4 linked regions of the Homo sapiens genome follow. The protein of the gene in region 4 interacts with the protein of the main gene of each other region in a biochemical or structural test. Each region holds a gene or a part of one and is shown on either strand. Other genes may lie near its edges.

What was found.
Region 1: the proteins of CRK (region 4) and ERBB3 form a complex in vitro, tested with the Homo sapiens proteins (2 studies listed by BioGRID and IntAct, with this or other methods).
Region 2: the proteins of CRK (region 4) and DOCK1 form a complex in vitro, tested with the Homo sapiens proteins (3 studies listed by BioGRID and IntAct, with this or other methods).
Region 3: the proteins of CRK (region 4) and BCAR1 form a complex in vitro, tested with the Homo sapiens proteins (2 studies listed by BioGRID, with this or other methods).

The regions. Positions count from the first base shown.
Region 1 is NC_000012.12:56,090,163-56,097,185, reverse strand, and holds part of ERBB3 (receptor tyrosine-protein kinase erbB-3 isoform 1 precursor), read right to left. Parts: intron 4,440-7,023; coding exon 4,366-4,439; intron 4,201-4,365; coding exon 4,110-4,200; intron 3,842-4,109; coding exon 3,636-3,841; intron 3,423-3,635; coding exon 3,290-3,422; intron 3,088-3,289; coding exon 2,997-3,087; intron 2,785-2,996; coding exon 2,630-2,784; intron 1,930-2,629; coding exon 1,876-1,929; intron 1,522-1,875; coding exon 1,380-1,521; intron 684-1,379; coding exon 564-683; intron 439-563; coding exon 340-438; intron 142-339; coding exon 1-141. UniProt on the Homo sapiens protein: Tyrosine-protein kinase that plays an essential role as cell surface receptor for neuregulins.
Region 2 is NC_000010.11:126,901,547-126,908,427, forward strand, and holds the start of DOCK1 (dedicator of cytokinesis protein 1), read left to right. Parts: upstream 1-3,881; 5' UTR 3,882-3,971; coding exon 3,972-4,017; intron 4,018-4,184; exon of another isoform or gene 4,185-6,881. UniProt on the Homo sapiens protein: Involved in cytoskeletal rearrangements required for phagocytosis of apoptotic cells and cell motility. Along with DOCK1, mediates CRK/CRKL regulation of epithelial and endothelial cell spreading and migration on type IV collagen.
Region 3 is NC_000016.10:75,227,658-75,234,624, forward strand, and holds the end of BCAR1 (breast cancer anti-estrogen resistance protein 1), read right to left. Parts: intron 6,279-6,967; coding exon 6,189-6,278; intron 2,367-6,188; coding exon 1,854-2,366; 3' UTR 524-1,853; downstream 1-523. UniProt on the Homo sapiens protein: Docking protein which plays a central coordinating role for tyrosine kinase-based signaling related to cell adhesion. Implicated in induction of cell migration and cell branching. Involved in the BCAR3-mediated inhibition of TGFB signaling.
Region 4 is NC_000017.11:1,453,228-1,460,565, forward strand, and holds the start of CRK (adapter molecule crk), read right to left. Parts: upstream 3,006-7,338; 5' UTR 2,891-3,005; coding exon 2,650-2,890; intron 1-2,649. UniProt on the Homo sapiens protein: Involved in cell branching and adhesion mediated by BCAR1-CRK-RAPGEF1 signaling and activation of RAP1.

The sequences.
Region 1 (7,023 bases), on a different chromosome or scaffold from region 4:
TGCCCCCCGGTGTTGTCTCACATGATCCAGCAGAGAACCCAGAGGCAAATATTGAGTGACAAGCTGCAGAGATGACCCTGGGCATAGTCCCAGCAGCCTTACAATGTGGGCATGGTCCAGGCTGCCAATGGCCAGCATATGCTAAGAGACACAAAAGGTATTATCTAGGAAACCAACAGGTTCACATACACTCAGCATGTGCACAGCCAGCCCAGGCCCCCCCACCCCCAACATTCTGGCTAACATAGTAGCTGCTGAGAAGCACAGGACCCTGCTTCTACATGATTGTATCTAATATTGTCCTCTCTCCTAGCGGCATACAGAATTTCCTTCACTTACATCTGTCACAGCTTGAAAACTCTGCCGTCCACTCTTGTCCTCAATGACTTTAATGCAGACTGGAATCTTGATTGATTCACCCTCAGGGATCCACACTCCCTGGGAAGTTTGGGGCAGGAGTTGGCATAAGGTCATTCTCCCTAGGTCAATCCTATGCAAAAATCTTTCACCCCTTTGCCCTAGATGCCTTCCCCACCTCTCCAGAATTCCTATGGGTCACTCACTTTGTGCACAGTTCCAAAGACACCCGAGCCAAGCACTTTAAGCTTCCTTAGCTCTGTCTCTTTGAAGATTCTGGCCAAGACTTTGTTAGCCTTCTCACTGGGGTCCAGAGGCTCTATGCTCTGAGGAGCAAATGGGAAGGAGTTACTCAGGAAAGGCCATTCCCATGTCCCACTCCAACCCGCTCCTCATAGGTGAATGCCAAAAGCAGCACAGCTGAAAGGGCAGGAAGAGGAAGCACCGTTAGTCCTGGAATGGATTATAGGCATATTGAGGTACAGACCCTGAGAACTGAGGAAGTTATTTGTGCTCATGAGATCAGGAATCAAAGGGGTTGGGTTTTCCCTTTGATGGAGGAGCACAAAGTGGGGAAGGGGACAGCTAGGGAGAGTTGGTAGTACTATTACCACCTTGAGTACCTTTTATACAGTGCTCTGTGCTTTCCAAAGCACTTTCACATACATCATCCCCCTTTACCCTTACAGCCATCCTGGAAGGACAAATGTTATTTCCTCTGTATAGATGCATAAACCGAGGCACAGAGAAGATAAGTAACTTCTTCAAAGTCATGTGGCAAATTAATGGCAAAATCAGGACTAGAATGCATGCCTCCCATTTCTCTGACCAGTGTTCTTCTAGGGGACCACACTACTTCCTTGAAGAAAGGGATCAAATCTCTGGGGAAAGAGGAGGGGAGTGACATTTATCCCATCACTGACCCCTGGGTGCACAGGGTACCACTCAAAATTAAGCTATAAAGAGACTTCCAGGACATGCAAAAAAAGAAAAGAAAAAACAAAAGTAAGCTAAGTACTCACCTCACCCCGTTCCAAGTATCGCCTCATAGCCCTTTTATTCTGAATCCGGCGCCCACGCCAGTAGAGAAAAGTGCCGCCCAGCATCATGAAAATCACTACCAATCCTGCTATCACTGTCAAAGCCATTGTCAGATGGGTTTTGCTATGGGATATATAGAAACCCAACATTATCCTGGGTTTGCATCTTCCTTACAAATGTCAACTATACTTGTGTTGAAGGTATGATGCTGACCTGGGGCAAGAAATTAACATTCACATATATATCCTTAAGCACTGAAGGGACCAACCTAAATCTGGACCAGTCTTAGACTACTGAAAGTTAATTTTAGGAAGGGAAGTCCAGAAGCCTGCATTCTTGAGTCCCAAGTGTCCAGTGATAGTGGACTGCATACATAAAAGGCCAGAATGAAGACAGCCTCCCTCTTCTCTCCAGGTAACCACCTCTCTCCCAACTCCCAAATATCCCCAGTTTCCAGAATCTCCAACCCCATCATACCCGATCAGCACCAGTGTTTGTCCTAAACAGTCTTGAAGCTCTGGTCCTTTACACCTAGGGAAGAAAGTCACCACCTTAAATGAGAGCTTGGACAGCAGAGGCTCAATTTCAACAGCCTAACATATAAAAGCTTGTTTCAGAACTTACCGTGGCATCCCATCCTGGAGCCCAGAGCTGATCCCAAGACATGGCCTCCACCTCCAGCTCACTAGCTCTCCCCAAGCCCCTCTTCTGTGAAACTCCCTTGAACTGAGGTTATTCCAGGTTCCCAAAACTGTGGTGTAATTTTGTGCTGTTACTGATTTTCCCTTTCTCCAATCCTTCGCTACACAGCTGGGAGTGATTCTTTTTTTTTTTTTGAGACAGAGTTTCACTCTTGTTGCCCAGGCTGGAGTACAATGATGCAATCTCAGCTCACCGCAACCTCTGCCTCCTGGGTTCAAGAAATTCTCCTGCCTCAGCCTCCCGCGTAGCTGGGATTACAGGCATGCGCCACCACGCCGGGCTAATTTTAAATTTTTGGTAGAGACAGGGTTTCTCCATATTGGTCAGGCTGGTCTCGAACTCCCGACCTCAGGTGATCCACCCACCTCGGCCTCCCACAGTGCTGGGATTACAGGTGTGAGCCACTGCGCCCGGCCAGCTGGGAGTGATTCTTGAATCACAGCCTCTCTCTTCTTTCTGCTTCCCTCACTCTAGTTCTGTGCTCCTACCCTTCCACCTGACCCCCTCTCCTTATTATCCCATCACTGACCCCTGGGTGCAGTTCTCATGGCAGGGCCGACATTCATTCTGAACATCTGGGTACTTGTAGATTGGGCCCTTGGCACCTAGGACTCCATGGGGGCAGCTGCTCACACAGTGGGGCCCATCTCGAAAATGGGCACATTGAGCACAAGTATCAGAGCCCTGAGTGGAAGAGAGAAGGTCAGGAAGAATCAGATCCCAAGGTCAATTCCATACCTCCCAGCAAAGACCAACCCAGACATTCAGGATCTTCTATCTGCAGGCCCTAGCATTATCTGGCCTCTCTGTGCTATCCTTAGCCATATCATTCCCCAGATGCTCCAAGTATTGCCCCTTCTCTGTCTCCCTTGGAGATCCTGGTGCTACTAGTATACCGAGCCATTGCATGTGGCAGTGCCCTCCATGGGTTGGCATTCCGGGTGGCAGGAGAAGCATTCGGCCTCATGGGCAAATTCTCGAGGCTCCCTGTAGTGGGGAATAAAGGGAGGGGGGGGTCACTTCCAAGTCCTGACCTTCATGCTCCGATCTCACAACCACAGGTCTCCTACCTCAATCCCACCAAGGCACATGCAGAAAGCTGTCTAAAGACTTTTATTGTATGCCACCTGAACAGTTCCATTGCAGGGCCCCACCCCCACCCATCCTTGACTGGCTCCCCTTACTGTACCCATTCAGAAAGTTGCAGTGGGTCACACAGACACCTCCTCGGCTATAATTTCGACAGGACAAGCACTGACCAGGGCCTGGGCCCCAGCATCCCCCAGAGGAGCACAGTGGGTCACACACTTTGCCCTCTGCCACTGGAAAGGAAGGGGTGGGTTAGGAGAGGAGTCTGAGGACTCCCAGCAAGCCCTCTCTTCATTATTCTTCCTCGTTACTGCTTCCAGCCTAACAGCCCCCTTCTCCTTGGTTCCATCCCTCAACCCTACTCCCACGTCTAGGGCAGAATAGTCCTTTCAGCCCTCTCCTCCCTGACTCCCTATTCTCACCACCTAGCAGACCCTTTCCCTCACCGCAGTCTCTGCGCGGCCGATTATGCTTGATGTCTAGTCGCTCTTCCGTAGGCCCCCGAAGCACCTTGGTCCAGTTCAAAGAGTGGTGGTAGCAGAGCTGCCTATTGGCACTTATATAGATACGCCCAGCACTAATTTCCTTCAGGGATCGGAAGCCCAGAGATGTGACATTCAAGTTCTTCATGATCAACAATGAGAAGCCCCGGCTGAGAATAAGGAGACAGGATGAGAGGAGAGACTACTAAGGGAACATTAACTATTCAAAGGATTCATGTTAGTCAAGAAATTTGCTCAGTGCTAGTCAGATCCACTGAGAGGGAATCCCCCTCCTTTTGCCTTTTCCTCGTGAAACTCTGAAACCCTTTGGTTTTGAGGCACTGCTGTATGAGACAGTGCCTTGTATTTTACTAAAGAATGCCTATGACACAGGCTTCATTGCCTGAAGATGCCATTTCCTCCATACCCTTTACTCACTTGTAGAGGCTTCTGCCTCCAATGGTTGTCAAATTGGAAAAAACACTGAAGTTGTGCATGTGGGGCGGCCAGGACTGGATGTTCAGGTAACCTGAGGGGTTGGAGAGAGGCATATGGGCAGGGAGCCTTCTTCTTTCTTGGGTTCTCCTGGCTCCTCCCCTATAACTTGGGACGTGATTTTCTCAAGTAGTTATACCGCAATTTATGCCAGTGGTTCACCTATTCTTCTAGAAAGGGCAAACTCTCTGCCACTCACCTGTGATCTCCCGTACTGTCCGGAAGACATTGAGCTTCTCTGGGTCCAGGGCAGGGATCTTGTGCCAGGGGTCTCTGAATAGAACAGTAGAAACCAGTCAATAAGGTAAAGGTATAACTCAATGGCAATGAGCACACCCAGCCTCAGCATTTGGTTTCTAAATATCATTCTCCACTAAAAGGAAACATTCCTTGGAGAAATGGCTGGGATGGGGGAAATATAATATAAGCCCAGAGCATCTTGTGCAAACAAGACAAGACTCAAAGAATTAAGGGTACAGCCCAAAGAACACAGGAGCCAACTTGGAGGGGCTGGCTAAAATAAATAATGATTGTAAAGGATTATAACCATTGACTAGAATAAAATAAGTATCCATAAGAGTAAATAGGAAAGGAAGACCTTTTTTTTTTTTTTTTTTTTTTTTTTTTTTTGAGACAGAGTCTTGCTCTATCGCCCAGGCTGGAGTACAGTGGCAGCAATCTCAGCTCACTGCAACCTCCACCTCCTGGGTTCAAGTGATTCTCCTGCCTCAGCTTCCTAAGTAGCTGGGAATACAGGAGCACACCACCATGCCTGGCTAATTTTTTGTATTTTTAGTAGAGACAGGGTTTCACCATGCTGGCCAGGCTGGTCTTGAACTCCTGACCTTGTGATCCGCCCGCCTCGGCCTCCCAAAGTGCTGGAATTACAGGCATGAGCCACTGCACCTGGCCTTTTTTTTTTTTTTTTTTTAAGAGACAGGGTCTCACTCTGTTGTGCAGAGTGAGTGCACTGGCTGGAGAGCAGTAGTGCCATCATAGCTCACTGTAACCTTGAACTCCTGGGCCCAAGCAATTTTCCCACTGGCTCCCAAAGGGCTGAGATTACAGGCATAAGCCACTGTGCTCAGCTGGAAAGACTCTTCCTAACAGTAGAATGCCAACAAACAAATGCAGAAGGAATAATGGAATTAGAAAATTATCATTTGGCAACTATCATAACAATAATTGATTCAGGCAATTATCCCAAGACATTCATTAATTGTGAATGGAAAAATAGTAACTTTACAGTAGAAAAACCTGACAGATATCACCTTAACTAAGTGACCAGAGACATCATTGTGAGTGCTGGGACAAATCAACATCACGTACATCCTCAATAGGATGCCCTGAGCTCACAGCCTCTGTGGTGTTCTTATCAAACTCCAGCCTGGCAGCGGCGCATGCCTATAATCCCAGCACTTTGGGAGGCTGAGACAGGAGGATCACTTGAGCTCATGAGTTCGAGACCATCCTGGACAACATGGTGCAACCCTGTCTCTATAGAGAATGGCTTGAACCTGAGAGGTGGAGGTTGCGTGAGCTGAGATCACGCCACTGCACTCCAGCCTGGGCAACAAGAGCGAGACTCCGTCTCAAAAAAAAAAAAAAATATATATATATATACACACACATATATAAATATATAAATAGTATATAATATTTATGTTTATATATATTTATATATATTATTTATATATATATATTTATATTTATATATATTATTTATATATATATATATATATATATATATATAAAATTAGCCAAGCATGGTGGCATGCACCTGTAATCCCAGCTACTCAGGGGGCTGAGGTGCTCGCTTGAGCACGGGAGGCAGAGGTTGCAGTGAGCTGAGATCATGCCACTGTATTCCAGCCTGGGCAATAGAGCCAGACCTTGTCTCAAAAAAAAACTACAAAAACTTGAATCTAATCATGAGGACACATCAAACTAATCCAAACTGAAGAACATGCTGCCCATTACCTAATCTATACTCATCAAGAATATCATGAAAGATAAACAAAACCTGAGGAGCTGTTATAAAGGAGATTGAAGTGCCACGATAACTGAATGTAATGTATGATCCCAAACCTTAGGAGGACAATTAGTGAAATCTGAATAAGGTCTGTAGCTTAGATAATATTTTGTGTTAATGTTAATTTTCCGATTCAAACAACTATGCTGTGGTTATGTAAGAAAATATTATTTTTAAGGAATATACGCTGAAATATAACAGGGGTAAGAAAGAACCATGTGTGAAAATTTACCCTCACGTGGTCCAGAAAAACAATAGCATGTGTTTTGTGTGTGTGTGTGTGTGTGTAGAGAGAGACAGAGAGAGAGAGAAGTGATAAAGCGTATGTGGTATTTTTTTTGGCGGGGGACAGAGTCTCGCTCTTTCACCAGGCTGGAGTGCAGTGCCGCGATCTCGGCTCACTGCAACCTCTGCCTGCCAGGTTCAAGCTATTCTCCTGCCTCAGCCTCCTGAGTAACTGGGACTACAGGCGCACACCACCACGCCCAGCTAATTTTTGTATTTTTAGTAGAGATGAGGTTTCACCATGTTGGCCAGGATGGTCTCAATCTCTTGACCTCGTGATCCACACCTAGTGATCCACCTGCCTCAGCCTCCCAAAGTGCTGGGATTATAGGCATGAGCCACTGTGCCCGGCCATATGTGGTATGTTAACATTTGGAGGATCTGGGTAAAAGAGTGTATGGGGGGCCAGACGCGGTGGCTCACACTTGTAATCCCAACACTTTGGGAAGCTGGGGCGGGTGGATCACTTGAGGTCAGGAGTTCGAGACCAGCCTGGCCTACATGGTGAAACCCTGTCTCTACTAAAAATACAAAAATTAG
Region 2 (6,881 bases), on a different chromosome or scaffold from region 4:
GAGTAGCTGGGATTACAGGTGCCTGCCACCATGCCCAGATATTTTTTTTTAGTAGAGATGGGGTTTCACCACGTTGGCCAGACTAGTCTTGAACTCCTGACCTCAGGTGATCTGCCCATCTCGGCCTCCCAAAGTGCTCAGAGTTACAGGCATGAGCCACGGTGCCTGGCCTGTTTCACTGTATTTCTTATGGTGTCACTTGTTCCTCAACCTCCTCTATTTCCTGTAAGCACGAAGTTGGGTCTAAAGTCTTGAATATACACTTTTGGGCTGGGTGGCATTGTGCATTGTGACTACATGCCTGGTCATCCAGTATGATGCCCAGATCTCCCACTGAATCCAAGAGGCAGTGGGCATAGGCCTTGTTCCTCTCCTTTCAAAGGGCAAAAAATCTGTGGTCAGGCCCCTTTTCCTGCATAAAATCTCCACATCCCTGTTCCATTCTCATCTCTCCCCACCGACTGAGAAACATGCCCCATTGACTCACTGTGCCTTCTGGTACCTCCACCAGGCAAGATTTTGCTGAATTTACCTCCTGAATTTGCAGTGCACATGTGTGAAATTTTTTGGAATTAAAAAAATTAAAACTGTACTTTTCAAGATTTAAAACTGTAATATTGATTGTGTTCTTCATGGCCCCAAAGCAAGATTCTGTTGTATCTTGGAGGAGGGGGGTCACTACTCTGAAATCCCAGTGATGGGCAGCACTGAGCAACTGAGAGCCTCAGCATTCTTGGGCTTGTTCACACCCACAAGCTTGGCACAGATCCAAGTCCTGCAAGATGCCTGGGAGGGCAACTGAGACCTGTGGCCCAGCCACATTGACTCAGGAGGTAAAAATGTCAACAGGCCACAACCTCCAGGGCTCCTGGAATTGGAGACGAAGCCAGTTCTGAGCTTATGCAACCATAGGACAGTGAGAGAGGGCCATGGACTCGATTTAGAGCCACAAGATGAGAGCACTGCTGGAGCACCGTGGGGATGCTGACAAATCTTCTCAGGGCTTCAAGGACCGTGGCTACAGGTACATCTCAGCCAAACTTGGGCACATGTTGCAATCAAGGGACTGAAGCTACAACCACCTGGCCCGTGGTCCACCTGGAGTTTTGTTTTGTTTGTTTTTGAGATGGAGTCTCACTCTGTCACCCAGGCAGGAGTGCAGCGGTGCGATCTTGCTTCACTGCAATCTCCACCTCCTGGGTTCAAACAATTCTCCTGCCTCAGCCTCCTGAGTAGCTGGGACTACAGGTATGCGCACCCACGCCCAGCTAATTTTTGTATTTTTAGTACAGACAGGGTTTCTACTAAAACCCTGGTTGGCCAGGCTGACCTCGAGCTCCTGACCTCAAGTGATCTGCCTGCCTCAGCCTCCCAAAATGCTGGCTGGGATTACAAGCATGGGCCACTGTGCCCGGCCCCACCTGGAGTTTTAAAATTCTGATTTATAAATTTATTATATGACAGTCTACCAAAAGTATGCAAATCCGGCACTACACTTATTTATGCATTCAGTGAGTCACCTTTATCTGAGTGCAAGTGGCAACTGTTCTAGAAAATGGGAACCATGAGGTTATCAAAGAACCTGGAGGTAGGGTCAGATGAGGAAGCACATCATTATGATGTCTTACACATGCAGTCATGTCTCCTCTTATAATCCTAAGACTCACCTGTGAGATTCCTATTACAGCCCCTAGTTTACATGTAGGAATATCAGAACCCCAAGGTTTAGAAACAGAACGGCCAGAAACAGGAGGAGGATGGCCATGCAGCTGGGCGTGGCAAGGCCAGGCCTCCCAAGTCTGCATGACTCTTAAGCTCCTGGCCATTCGTTACAGCACGCCATCTCCAATGCAGAATCACACCAACAGAACTGAAACTGCACATTAAAGAGAAGGCGAGTGTCACCAAAATCTGTTTCCCAGGCTTCTTTGCAGAATTCCAAATTCCTAGCACGACCAATAAGGCCCTTCTTCTACCTCTGCAGCCTCAATTTATGTCACTTTCCTGTTGTTCCCTATGCTTCGGCCATCCTGGCCTTTCTGTGCTCTGAAGGAGTGGTGCTCCTTCCTAAACCAGGGCCTTTTCACGTGCTGTTCCCACTCCAGTTCACCTAGCTGGTTTCTGCTTATCCTTAAAGTCTGGGTTTATCTTATTTCCTCAAGGGAGGCCTCCCTGCTCTGGAGCAGGTCAGGCCACCATGTCCTTTACCGTAGAGCACCCTACTTGTCCTGGACAGCACCTTCACAGATGCTTCTCCTTCAAGGGGTCAGAGTCACCAGGCCACCACTACAGCGCCTGAGCCCCGGAGGTTTCTGATTTCCACAGAAAGCTTCAAGTGCATGCTGTGTGTGAGTGAGCCTGGCCACTTCCTCTGTGGGACTTCAGTTCCTTATCAGTAAAACAGAGCCCGTGGCTTTCCATGAATGTGGGGTTGACTTACCAGAATGCTCAGGTCCCACGTTATCCTCTTGAACGCAGCAGCTTTCCTCTAACCCACGAAAATGGAAAAGCTCCTGTGCCATTCCCAAATACTTATTTAATCTGCATTCTGGGTGGCCCCTAGGGCAGGTGACGGGCATTCTCTACCGCAGGATGGTGCCCCACCTGGTCCTCCCCAGGCCCTGTGGCCATCCTGGCCACCTCCCTGTGGGCTCTCCCAGCCCTGCTGTTCAGCACTGTCCCTACCTCACAGAGGTAGGGACCTCTTTTTCTTACCTTCTTCCTTTTCTTACCTTCGTTCCTCCAATCCCTGACGGCCCCCAGACCTACTGTAGTTGTCTCTGTGTCTTCGGAGAGAAGACACCCCATTAATGTGCCATGAAACCAAATTTATTCCATTTAAAGGGCTGCCTTCATTCGGAGGCTTTGTCCATGTCTTGGTTTTAACCTCTCTTTTCTGAAATTACAGTAAAAATAAATAGGTGTGTGTTGCTTTAACTTTTCCCTTGGAGAAATCTGAAGCCCCCACCTTTTACTGTCATGGGAAACACCAGGGCCTGAGAAGAACTCCCACCTCGGGCGAGGATGCCGTTCCTGAGCCCCACGCGTGGCCTGGGCTTTCCTTTCCCTACTTCTCTCTTCCCCCGACTTCAGCAGATCCTGAGTCCCACAACTATTCTAGCATTAGCTTCTGCAAGCCCAGCTGGGCTGAGGTTTCTGCGGCTGCTTCCTCTTGGTCTCTCTGGAAAACTCCACTCATTCAGCACCCAAGCAAGAGGTCACCTGTCTGGAACGCACTCCCTCGGCAGCGCTGTGCCACCTCTTTCCACCCCATTTGAGTGGCCGGCACTTACCTGTGCTGTTTGTTACCTGACGTGTCCCTTCTCCCACCTACCAGGCAGTTGGTGCGGCGCTCCCAGCACACTCGGGCAATGAGTGGGCAGGCGCTCAGGTAACGTTTGTCGAATGAATGAATGAGCCACGTGCTCAGGAGGACCCTTTCCAGAGCCTCTGCTGGTTTGTTCTGCTCCGGGACTCTCCACCAGGGAGAAATCCGAGCTGGGGACCTCGCACCACCAGGCTCCGGCCTAAGCCCGCGCCTTGCAAGCCGCCCGTTTCCTACCTCCCGTAGAAACCCCCCGTCCGTCCCGCCCCCCTAAGGGCGCACCCCTCTCACGGCGTGAGCGCCAGCCCCGGGAGCTCCAGGAACTCAGGAGAACCCCGCGGGGGTGCCCGGGTGCGGAGCGCGGGGCTGGGCGCACTGGGACAGAGGAAGGGGAGCCCCGGCGACCGCGGGGTCGGGGCCCAGGGTCCGCGCCGAGGGCGGGCGCAGAGCCCGCGGCCGTCCCGCCTCCCGCCGGCGCTCCCGGCCTTTCCCATCCGGCCCGCGACGCTCCGCCCGCCCCGTCCCACATGACGCCGCCTCCGCCGCAAACTTTTTCCTCCCCATCCTGTCGCGGCTCGAAAGGAATGGAAAATGGCGGCCTAGACGCGGAGTTTCCTGCCCGACCCGCGGCGGCTCCGGCGGCGCCATGACGCGCTGGGTGCCCACCAAGCGCGAGGAGAAGTACGGCGTGGGTGAGCAGCGCCGCCGCCGCCGCGCCTCTCGCCCCAAGCCCAGGCTCCGGCGGGGCGGGTGTGCCGGGCGCCTGTTGCCGCCGCCCCGAGCGGCCGCCGGGCCGGGGAGAGGCGCTTCCGCCCGCGCCCGCGCCGCCGCCCCGCTCGCAATGCCCGGCGACCCCGGCCGCCCCGCGCCCCCGGCGGCGTCAGCTCCAGCCCCGGGGATGCGGGTCGGGAACACGAGGGGGTGGGGTGGGAATGGGGGCGGGCGCGTCCCTCCCTAGGGTGTCCCCTCCGACGCCCGCTCCTCTGGACCTCTGCCGTGGAGCCCCCCGGGCTACCCCCAACTCCCCGGCCCCGGCCGCTGCTATCTGCGCGGCTGGGCCCGTCAGGGAAGCCCAGGGGTCACTGTCTCGCGGCGGCTTCTGCTTCTTGGATGAACTTGCGTCCCGCGTCCGGGCTCTGGGTGGGCGGGCTCAGGTCGGCGCGGTCCCAGCGGATAATTCCGCCCTTTCCCGGCGGGGAGGAGGGGGCGCGACCTGGGTGGCCAGCGCCCCTTGCCCCTCGGCGGTCTCGCTGGGGACCGTGTGGGACCTTGGAGAGAAGGCGAGCGGCCGAGCGCCCCAGTGGCCCCAGGCCTGGAGACCCTTCCGGGAGAGCGGGGGCCTGTTTTTGCTCCGCGGCTCTTTGTCGCTTCCGAGGGGGGATGGAAGGAGTCGGGTTGCAAGTTTACATTTCGGACCCGAGTGCGCATTCCTGAGAGGGAGGCTTTCCCTTGCGGCTGAATAGACGGGCCCGTCCGCGTGGGACCCGCATCCTTGCGCCCCGGGGACCCGCAGCCGGTCGCCGAGGCCTGCGGACGCCCACCTCTTCGTGATCTGCGCGCCTGGTGTCGGGACTGGGCCGTGGCTACTCTCCTGCTCTCCCGGGTCCGGGATCTTCCCAGTTGGTTTTCGGGCTTGCTATTCCCCGTCCCACCATCCACAGACATCCTTGACCGCCTGCCTCATCCAGGCCACTCGACCCGACTGGGAAGACCTTTGGTGGTCTCGCCTCCCACAGCCCAGGCTGTGTCCTCCAAGGGCACCGTCTCAGCAGCAGCCCCGCGCCCATTCTGTGCCTGGCCCGTGCTGGACCTGCCCGACCCTCTGCTGGTGTGGTTCGAATCCTGGCTCTCTGACTTTTGGGAAGCGCCCTGGCAGCCCTTGTCCCCGGAGCGCTCTCCTTTCTGTGAACAGTTGCTTCTCTCTGCTGTCAATGACTTACAGTATGCCCTGACCACGGAGCCAGCTGGACAGTGGTCACGGGGACAGTCCTGGGACAGCCCTGGGTCCTACCGGGCCTGCACTTAGCTTGTTCCACATGCTGGGAGGCATAGGGGGCCTCCTTGCTTCAGGACCATTATGACTGAGCTTCCTCCCCATCTCCCCATTTTGCAGATGAGGAAACTGAGGCCCAGACACATTCACAAAAGTGCAGGAGAGCTCATCTGACTGCAGACTCAGTGTGTAACCTGCACCCTGTGCACCACCTAATGGATTCAGTCTGGGGCACTTGGCACGGGCCTTCAGTCTGCATCAGAGGCGAGAGGTTCGGGGTGGATATTCCACCTGAGAATGCTTGGGTTGTGGCGACAGTGGGGGTCCCTGCGGGGGTAGTGTGTAGAGGAGAGAGCTGAGGACTGACTCCCAGGGAACCTAGCACCAGCACACGCAGAGAGAGAGGAAGAGGTGGATAGGCAGGAGAGGCAGGAGGCTGGCAGAGGAGCAGGCATCCCATAGCCCTGGCCCTGCTGAGGAAGCAACTTAGGTGCCCATGGCCAGGGTGCAGTAGTGGCCATTGGGGGTGTAGTGGGGGCCATCGGGGTGCAGTGGGGGCCATCACTGCTCCCATTCTACAGAGGCAAGGAAGAGGTGGATTGCTTGCCTGAGGTCACATCACCAGTAAGTGGTGCCTCCTGGGTGTGAAGTGTGGCCGCCCTGGGTTCAGCTGCCACAGTGTCCTGTGCTTGCCTGCAGATGGGGAGGGCTTCTCTTTGGGACGCCACATTTTAAGAGACCTTGTTACCCTTCGTCTGCCCCCAGAGAGACCTGGATGGTGTCAGTTAGGATCCTATAGTGTAGCTGGATGGTCTGGAGAAGACTGAAAAGAATGTTCGTAGATGGGAGAACGGGGTCTCCTTGCTGGGGAGGAGGCTGAGGGCCAGAACAGGGCGGTGCGCTTGAGTCTCACACCTTCCAGAAGCTTCACCAGCGCTCATGGTGGTGACTTCTAACATCACACCTCTTGCTAATACTTTGGTTTTAAGAAAACTCCATGTTTGATTATTAAGAAAAAATAAATTTAAAAAAGTTAAAAAAAGAAAAAATAGAAAACTGTTGGAAAATTTTAAAAGGCGAAAAGTATCTGGGATGGTTTTGCCAGGAAATGCTAGGAAAGATGTGAAGGGCTGAAGGTAGAGAAGAGAGTGGCTGCTGTGCTTCCTCTCACTGGGTGCAGATGACAGCTTGCTGGGTAGACAGTAATGAGACAGCACCACTCCATCGGCATCCAGAGGCACTTTAACCAGAGTCCCCCATCAGGGAGGGTGGGAGGGGAGCTGAGCATGAGCGCAATGGGGCCATCCCAGGCTCCCCACTTGTCTGCAAGTGTGCAGTGGGAGGATTTTAGTGGTTCTCACGAAGGATGCTGACTGGGAAGGATGTAGGTGCTGGGATGTAGGGATTTATTGCCAGTAGGTGATTGGCTGTTTCCACCTAAGGGAAAATTACTGGAGGACCCCTCCACCATCCTTACCAACTCCAGCATTTTTCGGAGCTTAACAACAGGGCTGTGTTTCCCTGGAGGCGCTCTGGTGGCTCTGTGGGTGGACCACACTTCCA
Region 3 (6,967 bases), on a different chromosome or scaffold from region 4:
AAGGGCCAGGACTCAGGCTCACAGCTTCCTGAACCAGGCAGGCGAGGCTGCCTGGGGACTTCCTCCTCTTCCCAGCCCTCTGAGCTGGAAGCGTCAGCTCATGGGATGAATGGCGCCCCGGCATGGATGAAAGCCACTTGCCCCAGCTCCCTCCAGGAGTGTGCATGGCAGAGCTGGGGCTGCCACGTGAACCCAGGCCTCAGGACCCTGGCACAGCCCCTGCACCCACACTTGCCATTTCTCCGCACCCCTCCCTGGACTCCGCCAGGTTAGGGTCTCCCAGGCCCTGGCACCCAGTTCAGGCCTGGAGACACCTCCTCTCCTTCCTGCAGGGTGACTCCGACAGCCCTTGCCTGCCAGGATGGAGCCTGGACTCTGGAGGGCATCGTGTCCTGGAGCAGCACCAGCACCTCCTGTTGTCACCAGGCGTGGATGCCCGCATCATGAAATTCATGCCTGGGAAGGCGTGGAGGCCGAGACCACCCCCCCTACCCCGCATCTGTGTAAAACACAAATAAAGCCATTGAGAGCAACTGCATACACCTTTACCTCTGTGTCCTCACCAAGGCAGGTGGGCTGAGCATGATGTGGCTGAGGTGGGGGGACAGATGCTGTCACGGGGACAACCTCTGTAGAGGTAAGATCAGGAGGGCTTGCGAATCACCCAGCCCTACTCCCTTCTTCATACAGATGGGGAAACCAAGGCCCATGTTCATATGCAGAACGGTCAGGGCTGGGAGCAGCACCAGGGGTTCCAAGCACCCTGAAGCTTCCATCTGGGCTGCGGGCTGCTGGGTGGGGGAGCCACGAAGGGGGACACACTTGCCCAGGGCAAGGGTCTTCTCCAAGCCCCTCCCTCCCAACTCAGATGCCAGGTCCAGGTATAATTCCATGTGCACTTCGGGAGTTCCGCAGGCTGGGATGAGATTCTTTTAAGCAGAGCTCTGGATGCAGCCCCCAGCGGTGCCCTCGGCTCACAGGAACCCGTCCCCTTGTGCAGCTGTTCCTGCCCCAATCTGCCCTCACTCCAGATGCCAGCTGTGGGCATGGGCAGGTGCTCACTGTGGCAGCTCCCTAGGGTTGCAGGGGCCATGCCCAGGCTGTGCTTTCTGGGCCCCAGACCCTGCAGCTCTGAAACTGCCCCCTTTCTTGGGCCCAGGCTCTGCCCTGGCTCCCAGGGCCTTGTGGCCAGCTGCAGGCCTCACCCCGCCTCCAGGAGACACCCAGCCTCGGCGTTCCTTGGTTTTCTTCTAGAGAGACCCACTCCTCCTCTGCCCTCCCGGGAGATGCCACGCATGGCCCTTGCCCCCGGGTGCCTTCCCCAGAACCGTCACCCACCCCGGGCTGCTCTCATCTGCCACCCTCAGGCAGCTGCTCTTCCTTTTAAAAACTTTATTTAAATGGAGACTCTTAGTCAAATGATTGGAAAACCAATAACGAAAAATAGTTCTTCAGGTTCTTCTCCTGGTAAGGCGGAGGACACACCAAACTGCACTGGCCCTGTCAGGGGACACGGCACCCTCGTGGGACCAGGCTCAGCCCTCGGGGTGGCACGAGGTCCTGCAGGCTGCAGGACCCTCACACTCCAGCCCCGTCTGGTGACCCAACCCGGGCCCGTGGTGCATGCTGGGGAAGGCCACTGGCCGGCCCCTGGGCTTCGGCTCCTGAGGAGGCATGGCCCCACACCCTGCCCGGCCATAAATATATACAGATTCCTGGGCATCCAGGGCACCAGGACCGACGCAGAGCTGGGGTCCTGTCCCTAAGCCTGTGGCACAGCGACTCTTGACATGGGAGCCAGGGAGCTGGGACCGCCGCACCCCTCCCCTGCCTCCCTCCTGGGGTCACCACCCTCAGGCGGCTGCCAGCTGGCCTAGGACGCGGCGGAACTGCTGGGTGCTGTGGCCCAGCTCCTTGACCCTCTCCACCATGTCCTGGGCCGCGGAAGGCGATGGGTACTGCAAGGCAGCGGCCTTGGTGGTGGCCACGATGCCGCGCAGGAGGTCGCACAGCAGGTTGCTGTAGTGGGTCACCTGGCTGCGCACGTCAGCAGCCTTGGCCTGCCGTGACAGTGTGTCCCCGATGAACACCAGCTTGTGGGCGCTGAGGATGACGAACTTGCTGTGCGCCACAAAGATCTTGGGCGGCTGGTTGGTGGCCACGGCGGTAAAGAAGGCGTCCACGGCGTTGGTCAGTGTGGTCAGGTTGGCCTCACACTGCTCCAGGTAGAAGAGCAGCAGCTGCCGGTCCGAGGGCCCCAGGCCGCCTGTTCGCCCCGGGGCCAGGGGTTGGGCTGGCGTCCAGTTGGCCAGGTCGTGGTCTATGGGCCGTGACACCTCCTGTTCCAGTCGTTCAAACTGCTTCAGCTGGGGCAGGAGGGAAGCAGGAGCAGGGTTAGGCTCTCGGGTGAGTTGGAACTACAGGCCGAGACCTGGGCACCCTGGGCTGGGCTTCTCTAAAAGGGCCGCTACTCAGAGTGCATGGGACTGCAGGGAAACGGGCAGTCTCCTCTCCCGGGGACGGGACCAGGAACCATGGCAAGCCTTCTGGAGGTTGTTCAGTTACCCTTCCACCAGTCTCAAAAGGTCAGACTCCGTGCCCTGAACATTTTTGAAATGACAAGATGGACAACAGAAAAGTGGCTGCCTGGGGTCGGGGGGTCACCGTCCTGGCTTGGGTACTGTCCCACGTGACTTGAGACGTGGCACTGGGGAAAATGGCTGAAGGGCACTGGGGACCCCTCGACCCTATCTTTGCAACTTCCTGTGAATCTATAAATATTTCAAAATGGAAGGTTAAAAAAATTTTCCCCTTAGTTCAAAAGTAACATACACATTATAAAAAGATTCAAATATATCAAACAGAAAAAACGAAGATGTCACCTGTAATCCAATGCCCCTAAATAGAACCTCTGCTAAATCATCTTCCAGAACCACACACGAAAGTTAACATTTCCACTCCCGTGCCTAGGAGTCAGCTGAAGGGGACAATGTGTCCTCACTAGAGCCGCTCTGGCTCCGGAAGTGACCAGCCACACCCAGACTCAGGACTGGTAAGCTCTGTGCCACCCTAGGCGCAAAGATCCAAGCCACAATGAGCAAAACCAATAGGAAACCTCCCCTTCCTAACACTTAGAACCTCGCACTGTCCCCCTTAGGCAGCCACTTGGTGAAATCCTCCATCTCTCCGTTCCCTTAGCCAGTGAGATACATACTCCGCTTTTTTTCTTTGAAAAGCTCTGATGAGGCAGGGTGAGGTGGCTCATGCCTGTGATCCCAGCACTTTGGGAGGCTGAGGCAGGTGAATCACTTGAGTCTGGGAAGTCCAGGCTGCAGTGAGCCCTGACAGAGCACAGGCAACAAGCTTTGTGGGGTTTTTTTTTTTTCAATACTATTTTTATTTTTATAAAGAAGGAGTCTTGATCTGTCACCCAGGCTAATCTTTTTTTTTTTTTTTTTAAATGGAGTCTTGCTCTATCGCCCAGGCTGAAGTGAAGTGGCACGATCTCGGCTCGCTGCAACCTCTGCCTCCTGGGTTCAAGCGATTCTCCTGCTTCAGCTGGGATTACAGGCCTGCGCCACCACCCCTGGCTAATTTTTGTATTTTTGGTAAAGATGGGGTTTCACCATGTTGGCCAAGCTGGTCTCAAACTCCTGACCTCAGATGATCCTCCCGCCTCTGTCTCCCAAAGTGATGGGATTACAAGCGTGAGCCACTGCACCCAGCCCTTTTTATTCTTTGACAACTCTTCATAGTTATATAATATCCCACTGCATAAATGTCCATACTTTATTGAATCAATACTCTCCTATTAGACACTTTGTGGGTGGAGATTTCAGATTCTTCACCGATACAAAAATGGGGCAACAGATGTTCTCATCAGTAAGTCTTCATGGACTTGCATTTAACATGGACTTTATGTCCTTGGCCTTGGAATTCTACATCTTTAAAGTTCTTCACATATATTCTTGCCCTTTAATCCAGCTTCTAGCAAGTTATCTAAGTGATTCATCAGATACGTGCAAAGACTAGTATTCATCACAGCACTGTTCACAAAAGTAAAACTCTGGGAACAGCCTAAGTGTCCAACAGCAGGGGACTGGTGAAGTCAGTGCTGGAGGCACACAGAGGACGGACAAAGTACACGACCACTTCTGAAAACACGGCGATCCCAGAGTTCTCTCTCTAGACAGAGATATAGACCTATATATTGTTGATATTTCAGGAGGTTTTTTGTTTTTGAGACGGAGTTTCGCTCTTGTTGCCCAGGCTAGAGTGCAGTGGTGCGATCTCGGCTCACCGCAACCTCCGCCTCCTGGGTTCAAGCGATTCTCCTGCCTCAGCCTCCCAAGTAGCTGGGATTACAGGCATGTGCCACCATGCCCAGCTAATTGTTTTGTATTTTTAGTAGAGATGGGGTTTCTCCATGTTGGTCAGGCTGGTCTCGAACTCCCGACCTCAGGTGATCCGCCCGCCTCGGCACCCAGGAGGTTTTTAAAACAATTTTATTTTATTTTTTTTGAGACGGAATCTCACCCTGTCGCCCAGGCTGGAGTGCAGTGGCGCAATCTCGGCTCACTGCAAGCTCCGCCTCCTGGGTTCAAATGATTCTCCTGCCTCAGCTTCCCAAGTAGCTGGGACTACAGGCGTGTGCCACTATGCTGGCCAATTTTTGTATTTTTAGTAGAGATGGGGTTTTGCCATGTTGACCAGGCTGGTCTCAAACTCGTGACCTCAAGTGATCTGCCCGCCTTGGCCTCCCAATGTGCTGGGATTACAAGTGTGAGCCACTGTGCCTGGCCACAATTTGTATTAATGTATACAGACTTGGGTCTCACTACGTGGCCTGGCTGGTCTCAAACCCTTGGCCTCAAGTGATCCTCCTGCCTCAGCCTCCTAAAGTGTTAGGATTACAGGTGTGACATTTATTCTTTTCTTGGGTGTTTTCTTTAGTAGATTTAACAGGGGTGCAGGTGCAGTTTTGTTATGTGGGTACAATGTACCCATTAGGTAATTTCTCAGCCCCCACCCCCTGCCACCCTGCCACCGTTCTGAGATGTCAATGTCTAGCCTCTCCTGAGTGTCTCCATGTGCCAGGTACTTCCCAGGCATCTTCCACTTTTCAGTGATTCTCACCGAGCTCTCATGAGGCGGCTGCAGCCTCACTGCTGTGTGTCGTGGGTCTCAGGCCCCTGCCTCTGCCACCTCCTTGGTGCCCAGAAGGTAGGCGAGGGAGATTTGACGGGTGATATTTTTATGTTCACTTCGTGCTATCCTGTATTTTCACTTTTAAAATTATCTTCATAATCAGAATAAAGCTCCCTTAGTGTTTTTTTACATACCTCTTTCCTACCCTGAAGAACTGATTCAAAATATGAGGAAAATTCTATTAACATGTCTGCATATAAACACAGCAGTATATTTATAATAAGGGGCCAGATGTGGTGGCTCACACTATAATCCCAGCACTTTGGGAGGCCAAGGCAGGTGGATCGTTTGAGCCCAGGTGTTTGAGACCAGCCTGGGCAATGTGGTGAAACCTTTGTCTCTATAAAAAATATAAAAATCAGCCAGGTGTGGTGGCAGGCGCCTGTAATCCCAACTACTGGGGAGGCTGAGGCAGGAGAATCGCTTGAGCCCAGAAGGTTGAGGCTGCAGTGAGTTGAGATCGCATCACTGTACTCTAGCCTGTGTGACAGAACAAGATTCTGTGTCAAAAAAAAAAAAATACTAAGGAAGTGTGGGTACAATACAAACATTCAATAGACGCTAAGTGGTCTTTGAAAGAATCCACAAGAATGCTTAACGCCATGGCAGATGCTGGGACAGAAGAGTCGAATGCCCACAGGACACCATCCCGGCCATGCAGGGAGCAGCTTGGAGGAAGGAGCAGGGCAGAGCCAGCCCCGTGCTGAGCCTATGGCAGCTGTGAGGGGTCTATTTTCTGCTCTCACCCCACTCTCTAATTCCCTAAATGTCTCCAACAATTACTCTTGAAAACTTTAAAATAAACCAAGTGAAAAGATGAAGATGGTCAGGAGGCAGGGGGGTGGCAGGCCGGGCCCAGCTCTGAGCACTGTCAGACAACATGAGAAGCTGGGGACCCGGGGTCGGCCCTGCAGGGCAAGAGCTGGGGGCTCAGGGGGTCAGCGGGCAAAGCTGGGCCTTGCTCTGCTCCGGGGCCTCACCTGCTGCAACTCCAGCTGGCTCTTGCCCTGCCGCGTGATGCTGCCCTTTTCCAGCAGCTCCTTCTGGGTCTTCTCAAACTCCTCCTTCCCCTGGAGGGCAGAGACAGGGGCTGCGCTGAGGCCAGTTTTCTGAGCCAGAAGCACAGGCCAGCCCTGTGGCGGGCGCAGTGAGCTGAGTGGCCACCAGGTGGTGCTGCGTGTGCGCGCACACACACGCACACGTGGACGCACACACACACTAGCACACGTGGACACACACACACACACAAGCACACGTGAACACACACACAGACTGGCACGTGCAGGGGCAGGCAGACAGACACACACACACACACACACACACACACACACACACACTCCCCCAGGCTGGCATATGTGGGACACAGCCCCCCCAGGCTGGCACATGCGGGGACACACAGAGAAGGTGGCTTCCTAGGAAGCAACCCTGGCAGCCCCTTTCACCGCCTGCCAGCTCAGGAAGAGACTGGGCAGAGGGTGGGGTACCCGCAGAAAGTCCGCAAGCTCCACCCTGCCTTCCCAGGCTCCAACACCAGGAATCACACCCAATCCCTCCCCCTTGGCCTAAAGGCCTGGCCACCTGGTCCCTGCCCCTGGATGCCTCTCTGGCCCAGCTCAGCCTGGAATGTTCCTTACCAGGACTCCCACCCGGCTAGCACCCAGGCCTCTGCTCCAGGGGCCAGCCTGGGAGGAGCAGTCCCAGCCACCTCCCACCACCTCCTGCTGCTCCCCCACGCTCAGAGCATCCTTGTGTGTGTGCA
Region 4 (7,338 bases):
TCCTCAGCCAAGGAACTGAGTTCTTATCTGTTTTGAAAAGGTGGTGCTCGATTATCACGGTAAGTGTTGAGACATAAAATCGTTATGCTAAGATATGAAAAAATATCAAACTAACAAACCTGCCTGCTGCCATTTTCAACTTTGGCAACCAACAAACACAAACAAAAGGCTGAAAAGTGAGTTTCAATGACAGTTTGCCATCATGTGACGACATATAATGCAAAACCCCAGATACTATGCAGGTGGCATCAAAGTAGAATATATCTGGTTCAGGGCCAACACAGGTACATCAATATTCCCATCTCATAATACTATTAAACAGGCCACAATGAGAAAGATCTAGGATAATTTGTGAGCTTATAGACCCCATACTCATTTTTAAAAAATGGTTGTGTTAGACTGGGTGTGGTGGCTCACGCCTGTAATCCCAACACTTTGGGAGTCTGAGGTGGGCAGATCACCTGAGGTCAGGAGTTCGAGACCAGCCTGGTCAACTTGGCGAAACCCCAACCCTACTAAAAATACAAAAACTAGCCAGGCGTAGTGGAGTGTGCCTGTAATCCCAGCTACTAGGGAGGCTGAGACAGGAGAATCCTTTGAACCCGGGGAGGTAGAGATTGCAGTGAGCTGAGATTGCACCATCGCACTCCAGCCTGGGCAACAAAAGCGAAACTCCGCCTCAAACAAACAAAGCTGGGTGCGGTGGCCCACGCCTGTAATCCCAGCATTTTGGGAGGCAAAGGCGAGTGGATCACCTGAGATCAGGAGTTCAAGACCAATCTGGCCAACCTGGTAAAACCCCATCTCTACTAAAAATACAAAAAATTAGCTGGGCGTGGTGGTGATGCACACCAGCAATCCCAGCTACTCAGGAGGCTGAGGCAGAATCACTTGAACCCAAAAGGCAAAGGTTGCAGTGAGCCAAGATCGCGCCACTGCACTCCAGCCTGGGCGACAGAGAGACTCCGTCTCAAAATAAATAAATAAGTAAGAAATAAATAAGAAAAATTTTAAAAAAATTAGTATGTGTTGGCCAGGCGCGGTGGCTCTTGCCTGTAATCCCAGCACTTTGGGAGGCCGAGGCTGGTGGATCACCTGAGGTCAGGAGTTCGAGACCAGCCTGGCCAACCTGGTGAAACTTCGTCTCTACGAAAAATACAACATTAGCTGGTTATGGTGGCGGGTGCCTGTAATCCCAGCTACTTGGGAGACTGAGACAGGAGAATCGCCGTGAGCCGAGATTGCGCCACTGTGCTCCAGCGTGGGTGACAGAGCAAGACTCCGTCTTAGAAAAGAGTAAAATAAAAATTGGTGTGTGTTAACAAAGAGACTGCCTATCCAATTCTCTATTTCTGGCCGGAGCGAGTAAATCTAAATTAGAACTATTCTACAAGGGCAAGTCTACAAAGGACGGCTCAAGAGCTTCCTGATTCATATGAGACTAGTCTGAACCCATTCTCAGCTGGCCAAGAAGAAACTGCTTCGACTTGGCAACAGCGTGAAGGCACGAGGACTCCTGATGCTGTTACACAGGTACACATACAATGAGAACCCCAGAATTACTTTGTACCTCACAAATCTCCAGTACTAAGGGCATCTATCTATTCCCTTAAAACAGTCCCAAATCAACTCCAACGGCATCGGTAAGACAGTCAATCTCAGGGATCCCTCCCTGGCAAGGAAAACCCAGCGCAGGTAATTTATGTTCTTGGCGTAGAGTCTGTTCCCAATATCCAGGAAGACTCAGCCCGCAGCCCCATCTTACTGAGCAAGGTGACGCCCTGAAGTACACACCGACAATGTTTAAGTCCAAGGAAAATGAAGTTCCAGTCACTTACAGGGAAGGGTCTGTTTCCATTGCCTCACTTCTGGTTTATTTTGTGGAATAAAATGTCTTTCCTCCACTAAACACTTTGAAAACCAGAACTCTCTAACGGCGGACAGTCTTCTGGACGCTTAGATCTCTTGCACATAGCCAGGCATCGCCTTAAACTGGGTTGGGCTGGTCACTGAAGGCTTTCTGCTACCACTATTTCTTCTAGCACTTAGTTCACCACCTTCGTCCTCCACGGGGGAAGAGAACGGTACAAAGATTTTGGAAAAATGCCCAAGAAAGGAAAAAATTGACCGGTTTCCTGAGGGTGTCTCCATCCCTCCCGGCCAGTATGTGGTGACTTCCTACCAAAGGCCACCAGGGGAGCACGGCCAAACCCGGCTCTCCAACACGGCAGGAAACGTTTCCAGCCTAAAAGCCACTTGTAGGATTATCGGATTCATTCTGGGCGCCGCTGCCAAGTGATGCCCCCGCAGTGCCAACATCTCCCTCAGCTCTTTGTCCCCACGTTGCCTTGCCCTGCCCTACCCTTGCGCCTGGCCCGGGAGCCAGCCCCACCCTGGGGCCGAAGCAGTTCCCCTTCCCCGCGGCTGCCCTCCCCAGGCACACCCCGGGGCCTCGGTCCGCGGCTCCTCCTCCCCCACACTCCTGCTCCCCGGGTGAGAGCGAGCCCGAGCAGCCGGCGGGCCCCTGCCACGGTCACCCAGCCCTCTGCCCACGACCCCCGAGGGTCCGCTCTCGAGGACCAGCCAGCCAGGCTGGGAGTTCCGCGGCCCTCACCCCGCCCAGGGCCCGCCGTCCCGTCAGTCCCTCACCGGGCGGAGGCTGGGCGGGCGACGGTGGCACCGGCGGGCGCGGGCCGCTGCTGTTGATGATGTAGTGGGAGACGCGCGAGTTCTCTGAGACGCTGAGCACATAGTCCCCGGGGCTGGTGCTCGAGTCCCGCACCAGGAACACCCCGTGCCGCTGGCCCTGCAGCAGCGCCACCGCCTCCTGCCGACTCAACCTCCCCCAGTACCAGCTACTCCGCTCCTCCGAGTCGAAGTTGCCCGCCATGGCTGCCTCCGCGCCTAAACGCTGGGGTGCCGCCGCCGCGCGCGCCCCTCCGGCCCCCGGCGCCCGCCGCCCAGCGGACCGGCTCCGGTTTCAGCTTCACAGCAGCGCCCGAAATGGCGGCGGCAGCCGCGGGCCTCCCCCTCCGGAAATGACGCGCTCCCTGCCCGAGGGAGGCTGCCGGGAAGGGGCCCGCGGCCCGCCATTGGGAGAAGGGCAAGGCGCCCTCGCGCGCGCACTGCGCATGCGGATTCATGGGCGGTGCCGCCCTTCCCGGGCCCGGGCTGCGGGGGATGGGAGGCGGGGTCTAGGGCCCGAGGGGCGGGGCCTCGCAGCCTCCCGCAGAGACGCGCGCCTGCGCTGCGGACAGAGCGGTGCTTCTCGTCTGGGCCCCGGTTCCTGGACGACCTGGGACTTCTAGGCAGCGACTCCCAGACAGAATTGGAGGAGAAAAGATGCGTGTGGCCCTGGGGCCTGAGTTCTCGGCCAGGCTTCCTGCGATATCAGTCTGTTTCTTTTTTCTTTTTCTTTTTGAGACGGAGTCTTGTTCTGTCGCCCACGCTGGAGTGCAATGGCGCGATCTCGGCTCACTGCTCCCGGGTTCAAGCGATTCTCCTGCGTCAGCCTCCCGAGTAGCTGAGACTACAGGCGTGAGCCACCGCGCCCGGCTGTTTTTTGTATTTTTAGTAGAGACGGGGGTTTCACCATGTCGGCCAGGATGGTCTCAATCTCCTGACCTCAGGTGATCCGCCCGCCTCGGCCTCCCAAAGTGCTGGGATTACAGGCGAGAAACATCGCGCCCGGCCACGTCGGTCCGTTTCTGCTCGTTCCTCTAGCTTCTCCACAGACCAGCTGACGTTCTCATTTTCATTGATTCACCTAGGACATTGTTGTTGACACTCCACTTGCACTGCGGGTGCAAAGGTTATCATGGCTGGGCCCTGCACTCCTCGAACTCACAGACCAGTGAGAGGAACCAGGAAACTGGATGACAAAAGGATGACAAATGCTGACAAACGCTATCATGGGAAACGGACATGAACACAGAGCAGAGCCCCCACAGCCAGTCTATGGAGTAATCCAGGAGGGCTTCCCAGAGGAGGCAGCATGTGTTGACTGCTGAATGACAAATGGGGAAGGACATTCTTTCTTTTTTTTTTTTTTTTTTTTTTGAGATGGAGTCTCGCTCTGTCGCCCAGGCTGGAGTGCCTGGGCGTGATCTCGGCTCACTGCAAGCTCCGCCTCCCGGGTTCACGCCATTCTCCTGCCTCAGCCTCCCGAGTTGCTGGGACTGCAGGCACCCGCCACCACGCCCGGCTAACTTTTTGTATTTTTAGTAGAGATGGGGTTTCACCGTGTTAGCCAGGCTGGTCTCGATCTCCTGACCTTGAGATCCGCCCACCTCGGCCTCCCAAAGTGCTGGGATTACAGGCGTGAGCCACCGCACTCGGCGGGGAAGGACATTCAAAGCAAAGGGAGCAGAGTGTACCAAGCCACGTGAAGTACAGAGTTCTCTTCTCTTTTGAGGCTTTGGGGTCACCTGCCCAGATAATTCTAAACACTAAATTGTAGCCAGGGGCATCTCCTACTCTCACTGCCCTCATGATTGCCTCTGGACTGTGTTCCTACGAGTGTCGTGCTCGCTGGTGCTCTTTCGTCTGGCTGCCCCTAATCGCACTGCAAACAACTCCCACTGAGTTTTCTAAAATACAGATCTGGCCGGGCGCCGTGGCTCATGCCTGTAATCCCAACACTTTGGGAGGCTGTGGCTGGCAGATCACCTGAGGTCAGAAGTTCGAGACCGGGCTGACCAATATGGTGAAGCCCGGTCTCTACTAAAAATACAAAAATTAGCCAGGTGTGTTAGCGGGCGCCTGTAATCCCAGCTACTCAGGAGGATGAGGCAGGAGAATCGCTTGAACCCAGGAGGCGGAGGTTGCAGTGAGCCGAAATCATGCCACTGCACTCCAGCCTGGGTGACAGAGGGAGATCCTGTCTCAAAAATATATATATATGTATACAAATCTGAATGTGTTGCTACCTTGTGTAAAACTTTTAACAGTCTTCAGGTGTTCAAACTCCCAGTTTAGCTCAGAGCATAAAATTGGGCCACAGTCTCTCTCTCTCTTTTTTTTTTTTTTAGATGGATTCCTGCTCTGTTGCCCAGGCTGGAGTGCAGTGGCGTGATCTCGGCTCACTGCAATCTCCGCCTCCCGGATTCAAGCGATTATCCCTGCCTCAGCCTCCCGAGTAGCTGGGACTACAGGCACCCGCCACCACGCCCGGCTAATGTTTGTATTTTCAGTAGAGACGGGGTTTCACCATATTGGCCAGGCTCATTTTTTTTTAATTAAAAATTTTTTCTGGCCAGGCATAGTGGCTCATGCTTGTAATCCCAGCACTTTGGGAGGCCAGGAGGTCAGGAGTTCGAGACCAGCCTGGCCAACATGGCAAAACCTCATCTCTACTGAAAATACAAAAAATTAGCCGGATGTGCTGGCAGGTGCCTGAAGTCCCAGCTACTCGGGAGGCTGAGACAGGAGAATCACTTGAACCCGGGAGGCAGAGGTTGCAGTGAGGTGAGATCGCGCCATTGCACTCCAGCCTGGGCGACAGAGCGAGACTCCATCTCAAAAAACATTGTTTTTCTTTATAGCCGAGCGTGGTGGCACATCCAGCTATAGTCCCAGCTACTCAGGAACCTGAGGCGGGTGGATCACTTGAGCCCAGGAGTTCGAGGCTGTATTGAGCTATGATCATGCCACAGCACTTCAGCCCAGGTGACAGAGTGAGACCACCTCTCTAAAATAATAATCATCATTTTTTTAAGAGATGAGGTCAGCTGGTCGCTGTGGCTCACGCCAGTAATCCCAGCATTTTGGGAGGCTGAGGCAGGTGGATCACGAGGTCAGGAGATCGACACCATCCTGGCTAACACGGTGAAACGCGGTCTCTACTAAAAATACAAAAAAAATTAGCTGGGCGTGGTGGCGGGCGCCTGTAGTCCCAGCTACTCAGGAGGCTGAGGCAGGAGAATGGGTGAACCCAGGAGGCGGAGCTTGCAGTGAGCTGAGATCGAGCCACTGCACTCCAGCCTGGGCGATAGAGTGAGACTCCGTCTCAGAAAAAAAAAAAAAGAGATGAGGTCTTCTTATGGTGCCCAGGTTGGACTCTAATTCCTGGGCTCCAGGGGTCCTCCTTCCTCAGCCTCCTCAGTAGCTGGGATTATAGAGGTACCACTGTGCTGGTCCACAGTCTCGTTTAACTGCTCCTATGTGAATGCTGGGTTTCTTTTTCCTGGAATGTTCTTCTACCCACTTTGGAGTCTCAAATTCAAATGTCTTCCCTTTCTTTTTTTCTTTTTCTTTTTTTTTTTTTTTTTTTTTTTGTTTTTGAGTCGGAGTCTCGCTCTGTCGCCCAGGCTGGAGTGCAGTGGCGCGATCCTGGCTCACTGCAAGCTCCGCCTCCCGGGTTCACGCCATTCTCCTGCCTCAGCCTCCCGAGTAGCTGGGACTACAGGCGCCCGCCACCGCGCCTGGATAATTTTTTTTTTTTTTTTTTTAGTAGAGACAGGGTTTCACCGTGTTAGCCAGGATGGTCTTGATCTCCTGACTTTGTGATCTGCCTGCCTTGGCCTCCCAAAGTGCTGGGATGACAGGCGTGAGCCACCGCACCCGGCCCAAATGTCTTCCCTTTCTTAACCATCCCATCACTCCCTCTCTTCATCAACAGCAGTATGTCCAAATTATTCCCATGACAGCTCTTACCCATTTTACTGTAATTTTTCATTTGCAGTTCTGTGTATGTCCTCAAAGGCCAAGCAGCTAGTCTATGAGGTGCTCCAGAAGCATTCAGGACCGCTAACATTGATTCAGAGATGACCATCTGCCAGGCACAGTGCTGACTGCCTTTGTATGGATCATCTCATTTAATCCTCTCAACAACCTTATTTGACAAGTATCCCCATCTTACAAAAGAGAAAACTGAAGCTCAGAGAGTTTAAGTAATGTGTCCAGAGAGACATGGTCGCAGAGTGAGGAGCTAGGGTTCAAATCCTGGAAGGAGAGACAGCTATGGTCACTCTGCTCTACCCTCAATTTTCTGAGATAGGAATTGGGAGGAAGGGTTGGCAGAAATCTACATTTTTAAAAAAGCAGTAAGCTGTGGATTATGGTCTAAGGAATAACACAGTCCTGCTGGACTCACCTTACACACCCTTGGGCCTGCTCTGGGGAAGTGGGGGGTGGGGGACTGGGAGGCACAAGGGCACCTTTCCTGCTGCAGGTGACTCATCGTGACCCTGGCTTAGTGACAGCCTGGCACCGTGAGCCAGCAGAAGCAGCCGTCCCAGTGTGAATTCTGGCTGGTCTGTGAGCTCTGGACCTTACCCAGAGACTGCCTGTTCCAAAGCAGTCCCTCTGAGATCCCTCCCTAGGGCATACGGAAATTAC